4 linked regions of the Homo sapiens genome follow. The protein of the gene in region 4 purifies or fractionates together with the protein of the main gene of each other region. This does not show direct contact. Each region holds a gene or a part of one and is shown on either strand. Other genes may lie near its edges.

Region 1 (2,966 bases), on a different chromosome or scaffold from region 4:
CTCATAGCCTTAGTAAAGAAAGCACTTCTCATAGCAAATCAGAAATGTAAGGAGCTCATTGTCTAAGAAGGGATGCCACCAGAAACTATACATGGGTGCAGGTTTATGAGGAATCCTTGCATGACGGCCTTCTACAAGGAATTATAGAAAAGTAGGGCTACTTGGTAATATACAACTGAGAGGGTAACTGTGTCCCTCAACAAACTACTCCTTAGTGCCTCTTTCAAAGGCAGAATGTTGATCTGAATGGATCACTGGTCAAGTATGGCATCTCTAATGTTCTTGAAGGGGGAGGAAGGAGATCTGGTAGCTGGAAAATATAATTATTCCACGTTAGGCTCACCTGAATTGGTTTAAAATCATATTCTGATTCTCTTCTCATCCCTTCCTCCCCTCACCCACCATATACCTCTGGCATCCCTCCATGCAAAGAAATGTCGAATAGGCATTTCTTGGTATAATTTACCTACACTTGTGCTTGTGGGGTGGGAGTAAAAACATATCCAGTAAGTACCAAGGCTAACCTCCTAATGGCTGGAGCTCAGTTAGGTCTCTGGGCTCTCTAAAGGAGTCCAGAGCTCTTGTCCATGTCACAAATGGAGCCTTAGAATTTCTGTCTTTCCTTATGTGGCAGCTTTGGCCATTGTGTCTTGAAATTCTCCCTCAGGAAATGTGATAGGGGATATTATCCCATGGGATTTTAGTAAAAATCAGCTTGCCTAATTTCATATTCGTGTTCATAATGAAGAAATGCGAAGTGGTGGTAGTCCTCAGGATTAAGTGTAAAGGAAAATATGCAAGGAAAAAGTAGCAGTGTCAGCCCTTTTGGACTGCTTATGATTTCTGCCTTAGAGCTACAAGACTTGGAACAAGAAATAACAATACCTCAAGAAAATGTCTGGAGAGATAGCACCACTGTCCCTCAAAGACTTCAGCCACTGCACATTACCAATTCAGCTGTGAAGCATTTACAACTGTATTATCTGTGATTGTCTGCATTTCCTGTTTACATGCATGTGCTGGGGATATGCTTTAGTGTGTATGGACTAGAGTTTAAATCCTGTCTTTAACTGGGCTGCAAGGATGGCTATCAATCCCAAATTCTGTTTTCAACTCACTGGAATAATTAATCTGGTGTTCCTGATATAAAACAGGTGGGTTCTATTCACATGATGGCTGCTCTTTACCATATATTTCACCTGACCCTCATTTTGCCATGGGCCTCAACCTTTATGTGTGCTTTTTATGGCTCTGAAAGGACTGGCTCCCGTGTGTGGAATATACAAGGTATAAACACCACCCCTCACATACCCCTGTAACTTAAATGCTTCCATTTAACTCACTTAGATTACTTTCCCCTTAGTGGTAAACGGGTTGGGGGATGGGTGGTAGTGCAAAGAAGGTAGTTTGAAATATTGCCATAGTAATATGGGAACTTTTTATTCCAACCCTTTACCCTGGCTTTTTTTTCTCTCAATATTTGCCTAAAATTCTAAAATGAGTTATAGTAAAATCATAAAACTATGGAAACAACTGAACTTTGGTACACAAGTTAGTTCGATGACATCTTGTTATTTGAGAACAGTAAAAGGTGTGTCATTGCCTCATGATTTATCATAGTCATTACTAAGGGTTTCAGAGAGAATCTGGTGTGAAGCACTATCCTTTCAGACACTAAGGCCTTTACCTAGTTGCTCCCCTACCTTCTGTCGGAATAGGATTATTCCCATGCACCTCTGGGTAGGTATAGGTAGTAGCTATTGAACGGGGATTATTTTCCCCATGGCACAAGGGGAAACACTCTTGGATAACCTTCAACAATGAGGCTTTGCTAAGTGGCCAGACTTGGGATTTGATCTTCCTCACTTGTTATTTATTAAGTTTAAGCCTTATTCAGTATCTCTAATTGCAATAGATATAGTTCCTGTGACTTCTAAAAAAAATTCCTGTTAATGCTGAGACAGTATCTTTTTTGTCAGTTTATTAATTTTTGGTCAAGATTTAGCCTGAGTCTTAAAGCATTTATTTGTGGAATGCCCCACTGAAGTGTCTTCTCCATTGGCTAAGTACATGTTTAAAGCCATGGGTTTTAATGTAAGATACTTTCAGTATCTAATTCTGTTTCCCCCACTGAGGGTGCTAAAGAGAATTAGAATCTTTACTAAGACATGCTCAGGAAAGCTTCACGAGAGAACAGCTTCAAAATCCTCCCTATGACACTGAATGGTAGTGAGGAAAGAATTCTTGGGGATGCCAGTTACATACAATAGCCTTATTACTGCTAATCACTGTCAATAAAAGGTCACTTCATTCACCTCTATTTGAGGAAAACAATGAGAATGTATCTGATGAACTAGAATCCTTGTCAGTATTGGGAAATTTTAATGTTGCAATATCTAGTCAAACTTTGAGTGTACTGGTTCTGTGAACCACCTGAAAAAACAAATTAAATGTATTAAACCATAATGATTGTTGTATATCCGTTGATAAGAATCTGAAATATATGGGCTTTTATATTGTTTATTTTCATCTCAGTCTTGGGGGGGGAATTATTACACTGTTTTTAACAGTGCTTGAAGTACTCTTTTATGAGATAAAATTTTAATGGTTCTACTAGAAAAAGTGCTCAAATTTTCACAAAATAGCCAAAACCAGTTGTATTGGAACACCAAAAAAGAATGATCAACTTCCCATTCCAACCAGCTAGACAGAAAATGAATACACCTAGGGCAAGTTGGAAAACAGTTTAATGATCACTCACCAAAATCCACAGGAGAATCTTAAATGTTTACAAGCACCAATTATTCTGCTATTCCTGCCATTACCGCATCCTTCATGGTAGAGTATCACAAGTAAAAGTTTCTGGTTGTTTCATCTACTTAAAACCAGATATAAGAAACAACCTAAGTCTTAGCAACTTCAGGCTTCAATGTGAAACCATTAAAGCCCTCAGCACTTTAGGAGGC
Region 2 (2,208 bases), on a different chromosome or scaffold from region 4:
GTCTCCTTAGTAGCGCTCGCCACCACGCCCGGCTAATTTTTGTGTTTTTAGTAGGGACAGGGTTTCACCATGTTTGCCTGGGTGGTCTCGATCTCTTGACCTTGTGATACACCCTCCTCGGCCTCCCAAAGTGCTGGGATTACAGGCGTGAGCCACCGCGCCCAGTCATTTTTTTTTTAAGAGGCAGGGGTCTCGTTATCAGGGTGGTCTCGAACTCCAGGTCCCTAGAGATTTCTCCCCTCCCCACCCACCTGCCTCAGTTTCCCAAAATGCTAAGGACGCATAAACCACCGCGCCCGGCCCCAAGTTTTTTAAAGACCCAGGACAGTTTGTGGGGAGGGGACAATTAAGGAGGTTCCTTCATGTTATAAGGTAGCAGTTGGATAGTATTTACTAGGCCTGATTCAATACTTTTATTTTACCCAATAGGAAAGTAATGGCCTCAGTGCTTGAACTCGGCCACAAATTTCTGATAGGTTTGGAGAACAGAGTGCTCAGTTCTTCCGTAGAAATGGTGGGTGGCTCTGAAAAGAGCCTTTTGTCTTGTAAGTTTACATTTTTAAAGTTCAGCCCTTACTTGCCCTTAGCTTTGTGGTGGCTCTCAGTCTTCTTGGGGAGCAGTACGGCCTGGATGTTAGGCAGAACACCGCCCTGAGCGATGGTAACTTTACCAAGCAGCTTGTTGAGCTCCTCGTCGTTGCGGATGGCCAGCTGCAAGTGGCGCGGGATGATGCGGGTCTTTTTGTTGTCGCGGGCTGCGTTGCCCGCCAGCTCCAGGATCTCGGCAGTTAGGTACTCCAGCACCGCCGCCAGGTAAACCGGCGCGCCGGCCCCGACCCGCTCAGCGTAGTTGCCCTTGCGGAGCAGGCGGTGCACTCGTCCTACAGGAAATTGGAGCCCAGCTCTAGAGGAGCGGGTTTTGGCCTTGGCGCGAGCCTTGCCGCCCTGCTTGCCACGTCCAGACATGGTAAAACGACCTGTGGCCTAAGTCAGAAAGTGAGTGAAAGGAACCTACAGGGACGCGCATTTTATAGCAGCTGCTGGGCGCGAAAAAGAAGCTGGGCCATTGGCTAAGCTTGCAGCTTCCTCTTAATGCAAATGAGCTTTCTGAATATACGTGTTTTGATTGGACTATATTGATATTAACGTCATCTGAGTAACTTCCAATCAGACAGAAGAATTTCTCAATCTCATCTGCATATAGACTTGTAAATAAATAGGGCATAACCCAGCTTGTCCTCATTCTTGTTATTTGAGTGCTCTTTCACTCTCCTCCGCCATGCCCGACCCGGCTAAATCTGCTCCTGCCCCCAAAAAGGGCTCCAAGAAAGCCGTAACCAAGGCCCAGAAAAAGGACGGCAAGAAGCGCAAGCGCAGCCGCAAAGAGAGTTACTCTATCTACGTGTACAAGGTGCTGAAGCAAGTCCACCCCGACACCGGCATCTCATCGAAGGCCATGGGCATCATGAACTCCTTCGTCAATGACATCTTTGAGCGCATCGCTGGCGAGGCTTCCCGCCTGGCGCATTACAACAAGCGCTCGACCATCACCTCCAGGGAGATCCAGACGGCCGTGCGCCTGCTGCTGCCCGGGGAGCTGGCCAAGCACGCCGTGTCCGAGGGCACAAAGGCCGTCACCAAGTACACCAGCTCCAAGTGAGCTCTCGCAGCTGCCAGCAATCCAAAGGCTCTTTTCAGAGCCACTCACGCTTCCAGAGAAAGAGCCTGTGCATTTTGCTTGTAGTCTTTTGGGTGGACTCCGGCCGGCCTCCATTAGGAGGGAAGACGGCGGGAAAAGGTAAGCTAAGCTCCCTAGGCTTTTTGCGTGTGAGTATAGACGCTCCATCAGACAAATTTAGCTTGGGTTCTTAGATACCCTTGGGGAAAAAGGCTTGCAGTTGTGCTTTAAGCTATAATTACAAGTTTGCTTTCGGTTTTCGGTTACTCTTTCCTTTTGTGTTGTTTTTTTTTTTTTTTTTTAAATGGAGTCTTGGCTCTGTCGCCCAGGATAGAGTGCAGTGCCGCGATCTCGGCTCACTGTAAGCTCCGTCTCCCGGGTTCAACCAATTCTGCTTCGGCCTCCTAAGTAGCTGGGATTACAGGCGCCCGCCACCGTGCCCGACTAATTATTGCATTTTTAGTAGAGACGGAGTTTTACCGTCTTGACCAGGCTAGTCTCGAACTCCTGACTTCGTGATCCACCCATCT
Region 3 (3,500 bases), about 60 Mb from region 4:
CTGAACTCGTGATCCACCAGCCTCGGCCTCCCAAAGTGTTGAGATTACAGGTGTGAGCCACCACGCCTGGCCATATTTAATATTCTTTAATATAACACTTTGATGCTGATCAAAACACTTTAGATATTTATCAAATTAATCTGACTTAATACTGTACATGGTTACTTGACTGCAAACCATTCCTTTGAAGAACCATTCCCTTCATTTTTATAAAACAATAAAGTTGGTATCTCCTCCACTTCATTCCCTGCTGTTCATGAGAATCTAATAAATATCTGATATTCTACAAAAACCTCTATTCCTTGCAACCACACAGGTATAGTCATATATTTTTAGAATCACTTGATAGAATAGAGTTGATCGATTTTAATCTGTTTCAAATGCAGGTAATTTTATCATGCTGTTATTCAGTTTGTGTTTATTTTATATTCATTATTTGATGGTTTTGATTTAGCTTTTATTTAACCATGAAAATGCTAAAATTGTCCTTGCTCATACTCAAAAGTTTCCTTCAGATATATATTATCATTTCCAATTTAATATCATGTATAACAGGAAGAATTTTAAAGTCATGCTTAGTCTTATTTCACTAATATTAAATATTTTGATTCTTATTTACATGAAAATTCTTTCACTCTTACAAATCTTTTAGATTTTGACCTAATTAGTCATCATATTATTACAGTGATAACTTGCTACTTAAGACCATGGAAACTTAATTTCACATCTGTAACCAGAGATATATTTCCGTTTTTAAATGTGTATTACACTTAGACTAGAGATTTTTGGCATTGCCATGAAACACTCGATATGATAAATTTTTTGCATCTTCCAGCTGTGGTACAGGGCAGTATTTTCTTGTCACTGACCTAAGACTGTTTGACACCCCTCCTCCCCTAGTAAAAAGAAGTAGTGGGTGTCTTTGATGTTGTGCACAGCTGGAAGAAGATATCTCCTGAGTTGAGATTTAGACTTCTTTCCTCACCATCTTAAATCACTGTCTGACTTTAGAAAGGCATATGTATGGTGTTTTAAACATTCTTTGTTGTTCGTTTTCTTCTCTTAGCAAACTTCTCAATAGAATTTTATTCCCACTCTTCCTGGCATTGTTTATAAATGTCAGTTTTTGAACGTGGCCAGTAATAGTTTGATTTAATTTTTTAAAAAAAGATAGACTATTCAAAACTGTTGTGTTCCAGAAGTTGTTAAGATATTTTGTGATAAAATTAGTATTCATGTAACTTAAGGACTATTTGTGTCTAATAGAGTTGCTGATAGAATGAATTGGGAAATGTATATAAAGAATTGTGATCATGGAGAAGGGTATTATAAATCATATTACTATTTCTTATGTAGTAATTATGAAAATAATTACCTTATTAGAAAGTAGTATATGATTTTTAACATATTTTATCTATGACACTTTCCGTACATAATGGCTAAGAATATTTCTTCTGAAGATAATTCAAATAGTTGTATTCAGCATAGAAAATTAAGATTTTTGAAACAGTCATCTGAAAATTCTTAGTAGACAGATAATAAAAGTGATAGAAAAATTGTATCCCATATTTGGAGTATTTCCATGTGCTTTATAAAACTTTGCCCATCATATGTGCAATATAATTATTGTAAACAGATTTACTAATTTTTAGAAATTATAAAAATAATTTAATGTATGTAAAAGCATTTTGTTTCTTCCTTGTATATGTATTTTATTTAAGGCACACGAAGTATTATGCTTAGAGATGCTCACTTTGCTCCTGGAAAGACCAACAGATGATAGCGTTGAAGTAGCTATTGGTTTTCTTAAGGAATGTGGCCTCAAATTAACACAAGTGTCACCAAGAGGAATCAATGGTAAGTGTACATTCATAGTTTGATGTTAAGTTTTTATTATATTTATTGCTTATTTTATTGTCTTTTCTTTCTGTTAACTTTTAGCTATATTTGAACGCCTTCGAAACATTCTGCATGAGTCTGAAATTGACAAAAGAGTTCAATATATGATTGAAGTGATGTTTGCTGTACGGAAAGATGGATTCAAGGACCACCCCATTATCCTAGAAGGTCTTGATTTGGTGGAAGAAGATGATCAATTCACTCATATGCTCCCTCTGGAGGATGACTATAATCCAGAAGATGTTCTTAGTAAGTCCGGGGCATGTTAGTTGGAAAGAGGCTTACCAACAAATGTAAATATAGAAAATAAACATTAACTTTTACATTTTTTTTAGATGTTTTCAAGATGGATCCTAATTTTATGGAGAATGAAGAGAAGTACAAAGCTATTAAGAAAGGTATGTAAAATTTTATAAAATAATTTAGTTTGGATAAGTAGAAGCAATTTAAGTAGTTACGTAATACTGATAGCAAATATTTAGAGATCCCCACCTAATGAATCGCTGCTCTTATAAAGTTATTCTCTTAGCTGTTTCCTCGGGCATTATTTTTTTCCTGGTGCTTGCCCAGGGTTTTTTACTTCATTCTGAATTACTTACCCCATTGTTCTTTCCTCTTTCCCTCTAAACTATGCAACACTTACGTCTCACCCATCTTAAGAAATATTCATAGATTAGTGGTGGCCTTTATTTAGCTTCTCTACCATTTACATTCTGTGCCACCCAGTTTAGTATTCAATTAAGTGGTATACTTTATTGTAAAGTGCTATACTTTATTGTTTCTTGAGGTCAGGTTAATATCCTTCTGGTAGGATGAATCATAGTATTGGTGCCTCTCTGATAAAATAAATTGATCATTTTCATTTGTACATCATTGGTATATTGTAAGTACTAACTTTGGACAGGTTTTGATGTGTAATTTATCTTTGACATTACTAGCTGAGTGACCTGTAGCAAGTTACTTGTTTGTTGGAAGACTAAATGTTACCTTTCTATGGAAGGATATATAAAACACAGTGTTGTGTATTATCACCTACAATGATAGCTATTATTAGTTACTATTTTCACATTTGTATTATTTTCCTCCTAAAGCTAACACTCAGGCCTACTTACATAATAATTTTATGGGCTTATTTCTCTTGAGTTGTAATTTTACTGGAGAAGTATTTATTGCTGTGGAAGCAATAAAATTTACCTTTGTATTAAACCCCAAAAGTTTGTATTAAAAGCTCTCTGATTATAATAGAAATGTAAAGAGTTGGTTAGCTTTGCAAAATCTTTTATCAGGCTAACAGCACCATTGGGCAAAATGTAATTTTAGTTTTTGTCATTTGTTTGCTTTTAACATAAAGACCAGCCTTATGTAGTCTCATATACAGAGAAAGCAGAAACCTAGAACTCTGTCTCTGTCTGCATTCCATTGTTCAGTAGTGCTTAGAAGTAGAAGGTTGAAATGAAAAGTAAAATTGGGAGAAATCTTCCATTCCTCTGCATTATCCTAAAAACCTGTTATAATAATGAGTTTCTCTTCTTAGATGCTGATTTCCTAGGAGCTTTTCACTGTAATATGCCAGATTCTTTTTTTCTGTTATAATTTCATTT
Region 4 (3,500 bases):
AGTGGATTTCTGACAATCCTTGTTGAACCATTATTAAAACGTTGTGAATCTTTGAGAATAACAACACTTAAATGTGTACTGTAAGACTTTTAGCTTCTATGCACTTCTGTATTTTTTAAAACTCTCCTTACTTTCTTCTAAATAAATATTTCCCCACAATTTGGTTTACTTGCAGACATTAATGAGGTGAAGTGAGAAAAAGGACTTTCTTCATACCCCTCAGCTCTGACTGCCTGTCTCTTTGCTCCTGAAGTATTTTGCATTGTAGGTTTTTCATACACTGTAGTCTTTATCTCAAGACAGGCTGTTGTAATTATATTTGCATTTTGGATAGATTTTTTTTTTTTCAGAAATATATAATCATAACTCAGTGTGAAACAATCTGACATGTTTGAAAGGGGTTAGCTTATTTTTTTACAGGACTTTTTGGGTGGAGGAGGGGAAGAAAAGGTTGGCTTTTTGGTTTTGGGCAGTTGAATATTTTTCTGAGTTGCTTGCTAATACCAAATCTCTTTCTCATGTCTTTGTTCTGCATTCAAAGACTTAACGGTAAATTACATCATTTGATGTGAGCTTCATAGGATATTCCTTAATGTCTTTTCTCCCCACAGACTTTTTAGTACACACTCATCTACCCAAAATTCAATTTAAAAAGTCTCTTTGGGCAAAGTGATAGCCTACGTGCTGCTGTAATACATAATTGAATAAGCTCGGGAAGACCTTAAACTCACCAAGTGAGAGTATAAGGAATTGGAGAGTTTGTTTAAATGGATGTTCTGATTAACTTAATAATTTGGAATGTATTAGATATGTACATTATACATTTTAAAATATTAGAATATGATAAAATTAATCAAAGACTCAGGATTTCTTGAAGTGTTTTGAAGTCATCATTACGTGTATTTGTTATCTTTGTCTATAAGAATGTATATTTTTAGGGTTTTTGATTCTGGACAACTTGAAAGCATCTAAATTTTCTTCCTGTAAGTGCTTCTTGAGGGTTTATCAGACATTCCAACATGAGATATTTTGTGAGGATAGTTTTCATACTCATTTCTTATTTGATAGGAATCTTAAGAGTTTTGTTTACTATTTCATTAAAATATCATTGGATATGTGGTGAAAAGCCTGAGATTGCTGTGTAAGAGACTGGAAAGAAATTTCTTATTACCTAATGTTTGAAGTATGAAGTTTCAGGGTTGTTGATGGACAAGCTGATAGTAGGAGAGTAGAATTTGTAAAAAAAAAAAAAAGAGGTTTTTAAAAACGCAGTGCAGTATGGAGGAGAAACAACACTAGCTTTTAAAGTGGTGGAACAAATGGCTAGTTACTGATCTGGAATGGTTTCCTAAACTTTGTATGCTTAGCTGGGTGTATGTGATGCTTGATCAAATTTATAAACTAGCTGGTCTCTCATGGGGACAATTGTAGTGAAACAGCTGGAGATATAGATTGGACTTTTTGTGAAACAAGAACAGTTGTCAGCCAGGTGCAGTGGCTTATGCCTGTAATCCCAGCACTTTGGGAGGCTGAGGCAGACAGAACCCTTAGGCCAGGAGTTCGAGACCAGCCTGGCCAACATGGTGAAACCCATCTGTACTAAAAATACAAAAATTAACCGGGCGTGGTGGCATGCGCCTGTAGTCCCAGCTACTCAGGAGGCTGAGGCAGGAGAATCACTTGAACCTGGGAGGTGGAGATTGCAGTGAGCTGAGATCGCGCCACTGCACTCCAGTCTGGGTGACAGCAAGACTCCGTCTCAAAAAAAAAGAAAAAGGAACAATTGGGCCAGGTGCAGTGGCTCACGCCGGTAATCGCAGCACTTTGGGAGGCCGAGGTGGGCGGATCACAAGGTCAGGAGTTTGAGACCAGTCTGGCCAACATAGTGAAACCCCGTCTCTACTAAAAATACAAAATAGCTGGGTGTGGTGGCGGACGCCTGTAATCCCAGCTACTTGGGAGGCTGAGGCAGGAGAATCGCTTGAACCCAGGAGGCAGAGGTTGCAGCGAGCTGAATTCGCACCACTGCACTCCAGCCCGGGTGACAGTGCGAGACTCCATCTCAAAAAAAAGGAACAACTGTCTTTCCAATTCTGTAGGTGAAATCGTACTTATTAACCTAACTCTAGGTACGTGCATGGATATAAAGTGGTCATTGGCCTGTTTTACTAAATTGTCACTAAAGGAAAAAATAGTCCAGAAGAATAATAATTTCTAAAAAAGAAGAAATGATTTCCCCTTTTCAGATTTATTTTCTCAACCAGTCTACTGTGATTCTGGGAGAAGATTTAGAATTGATTTTAGAAATTGAATGAAGCACATACTCATTTCCCATTACGATAAGGGTCTAGGATAAGGGTCACTAGTGATTATAGTTAGCCGTCTTCTTCCTTTAAAGAAAAAAAATTAAATAGGGTGAGAAGGCCTTTCAGTGAATGACAAAGGTATCAGGTAGAAATTTCTATCTAATTTTTAAGTTTTTTCTTTGAAAATACGACAGTAAACTTGTTTAAGAGCTTAGTATTGGTAAATAGCTTTAATGTAAAACCCTTATAAGTTTTAAATTGGGAAATGTTTGGTCAATTAACCAATAGATAACAATTTTTTTTCCTTTTTTTAAATTGTACTTTAAGTTCTGGGATACATGTGCAGAACGTGCAGGTTTATTACATAGGTATACACGTGCCATCGTGGTTTGCTGTACACATCAACCCGTCATCTACATTAGGTATTTCTCCTAATACTATCCCTCCCCTAACCCCCCACCCCCCGACAGGCCCTGGTGTGTGATGTTCTCCTCCCTGTGTCTGTGTGTTCTCATTGTTCAGCTCCCACTTATGAGTGAGAACATGTGGTGTTTGGTTTTCTGTTCCTGTGTTAGTTTGCTGAGAATGATGGTTTCCAGCTTCATCTGTGTCCCTGCAAAGGACGTGAACTCATCCTTTTTATGGCTGCATAGTATTCCATGGGGTATATGTGCCACATTTTCTTTATCCAGTCTATCATTGATGGGCATTTGGGTTGGTTCCAAGTCTTTGCTATTGTGAATAGTGCTGCAGTAATCATACATGTGCATGTGTCTTTACAGTAAGATGATTTATAATTCTTTGGGTATATACCCAGTAATGGAATTGCTGAGTCAGGTGATATTTCTGGTTCTAGATCCTTGAGGAATTGCCACACTGTCTTCCACAATGGTTGAACTAATTTACACTCCCACTAACAGTGTAAAAGCATTCCTATTTCTCCACATCCTCTCCAGCACCTGTTGTTTCCTGACTTTATTGATGGCCATTCTAACTGGCATGAGATGGTATCTCATTGTGATTTTGATTTGCATTTCTCTAATGGCCAGTGATGATGAGCTTTTTTTCATATGTTTGTTGACTGCATAAATGTCTTTTTTTGAGAAGTGTCCATTCATATCCTTCACCCACTTTTTGATGGGGTTGTTTGTTTTTTTCTTGTAAATTTGTTTAAGTTCCTTGTAGATTCTGGAT

What was found. Proteins that work in one complex are often made in the same cells at the same time.
Region 1: the proteins of EPB41L5 (region 4) and BLTP3A purify together in Homo sapiens (co-immunoprecipitation; 3 studies listed by BioGRID and IntAct, with this or other methods). This does not show direct contact.
Region 2: the proteins of EPB41L5 (region 4) and H2BC17 purify together in Homo sapiens (affinity purification with mass spectrometry; 2 studies listed by BioGRID and IntAct, with this or other methods). This does not show direct contact.
Region 3: the proteins of EPB41L5 (region 4) and CWC22 purify together in Homo sapiens (co-immunoprecipitation; 3 studies listed by BioGRID and IntAct, with this or other methods). This does not show direct contact.

What each region holds. Positions count from the first base shown.
Region 1 is NC_000006.12:34,875,049-34,878,014, forward strand, and holds the end of BLTP3A (bridge-like lipid transfer protein family member 3A), read left to right. Parts: 3' UTR 1-2,466; downstream 2,467-2,966. UniProt on the Homo sapiens protein: Tube-forming lipid transport protein which probably mediates the transfer of lipids between membranes at organelle contact sites. May be involved in the retrograde traffic of vesicle clusters in the endocytic pathway to the Golgi complex.
Region 2 is NC_000006.12:27,892,184-27,894,391, forward strand, and holds H2BC17 (histone H2B type 1-O), read left to right. Parts: upstream 1-1,241; 5' UTR 1,242-1,279; coding exon 1,280-1,660; 3' UTR 1,661-1,708; downstream 1,709-2,208. Other genes in the region: H2AC17 (histone H2A type 1), read right to left, coding at 574-966. UniProt on the Homo sapiens protein: Core component of nucleosome. Nucleosomes wrap and compact DNA into chromatin, limiting DNA accessibility to the cellular machineries which require DNA as a template.
Region 3 is NC_000002.12:179,969,298-179,972,797, reverse strand, and holds part of CWC22 (pre-mRNA-splicing factor CWC22 homolog), read left to right. Parts: intron 1-1,721; coding exon 1,722-1,857; intron 1,858-1,941; coding exon 1,942-2,148; intron 2,149-2,234; coding exon 2,235-2,297; intron 2,298-3,500. UniProt on the Homo sapiens protein: Required for pre-mRNA splicing as component of the spliceosome. As a component of the minor spliceosome, involved in the splicing of U12-type introns in pre-mRNAs. Promotes exon-junction complex (EJC) assembly.
Region 4 is NC_000002.12:120,019,577-120,023,076, forward strand, and holds part of EPB41L5 (band 4.1-like protein 5), read left to right. Parts: intron 1-3,500. UniProt on the Homo sapiens protein: Plays a role in the formation and organization of tight junctions during the establishment of polarity in epithelial cells.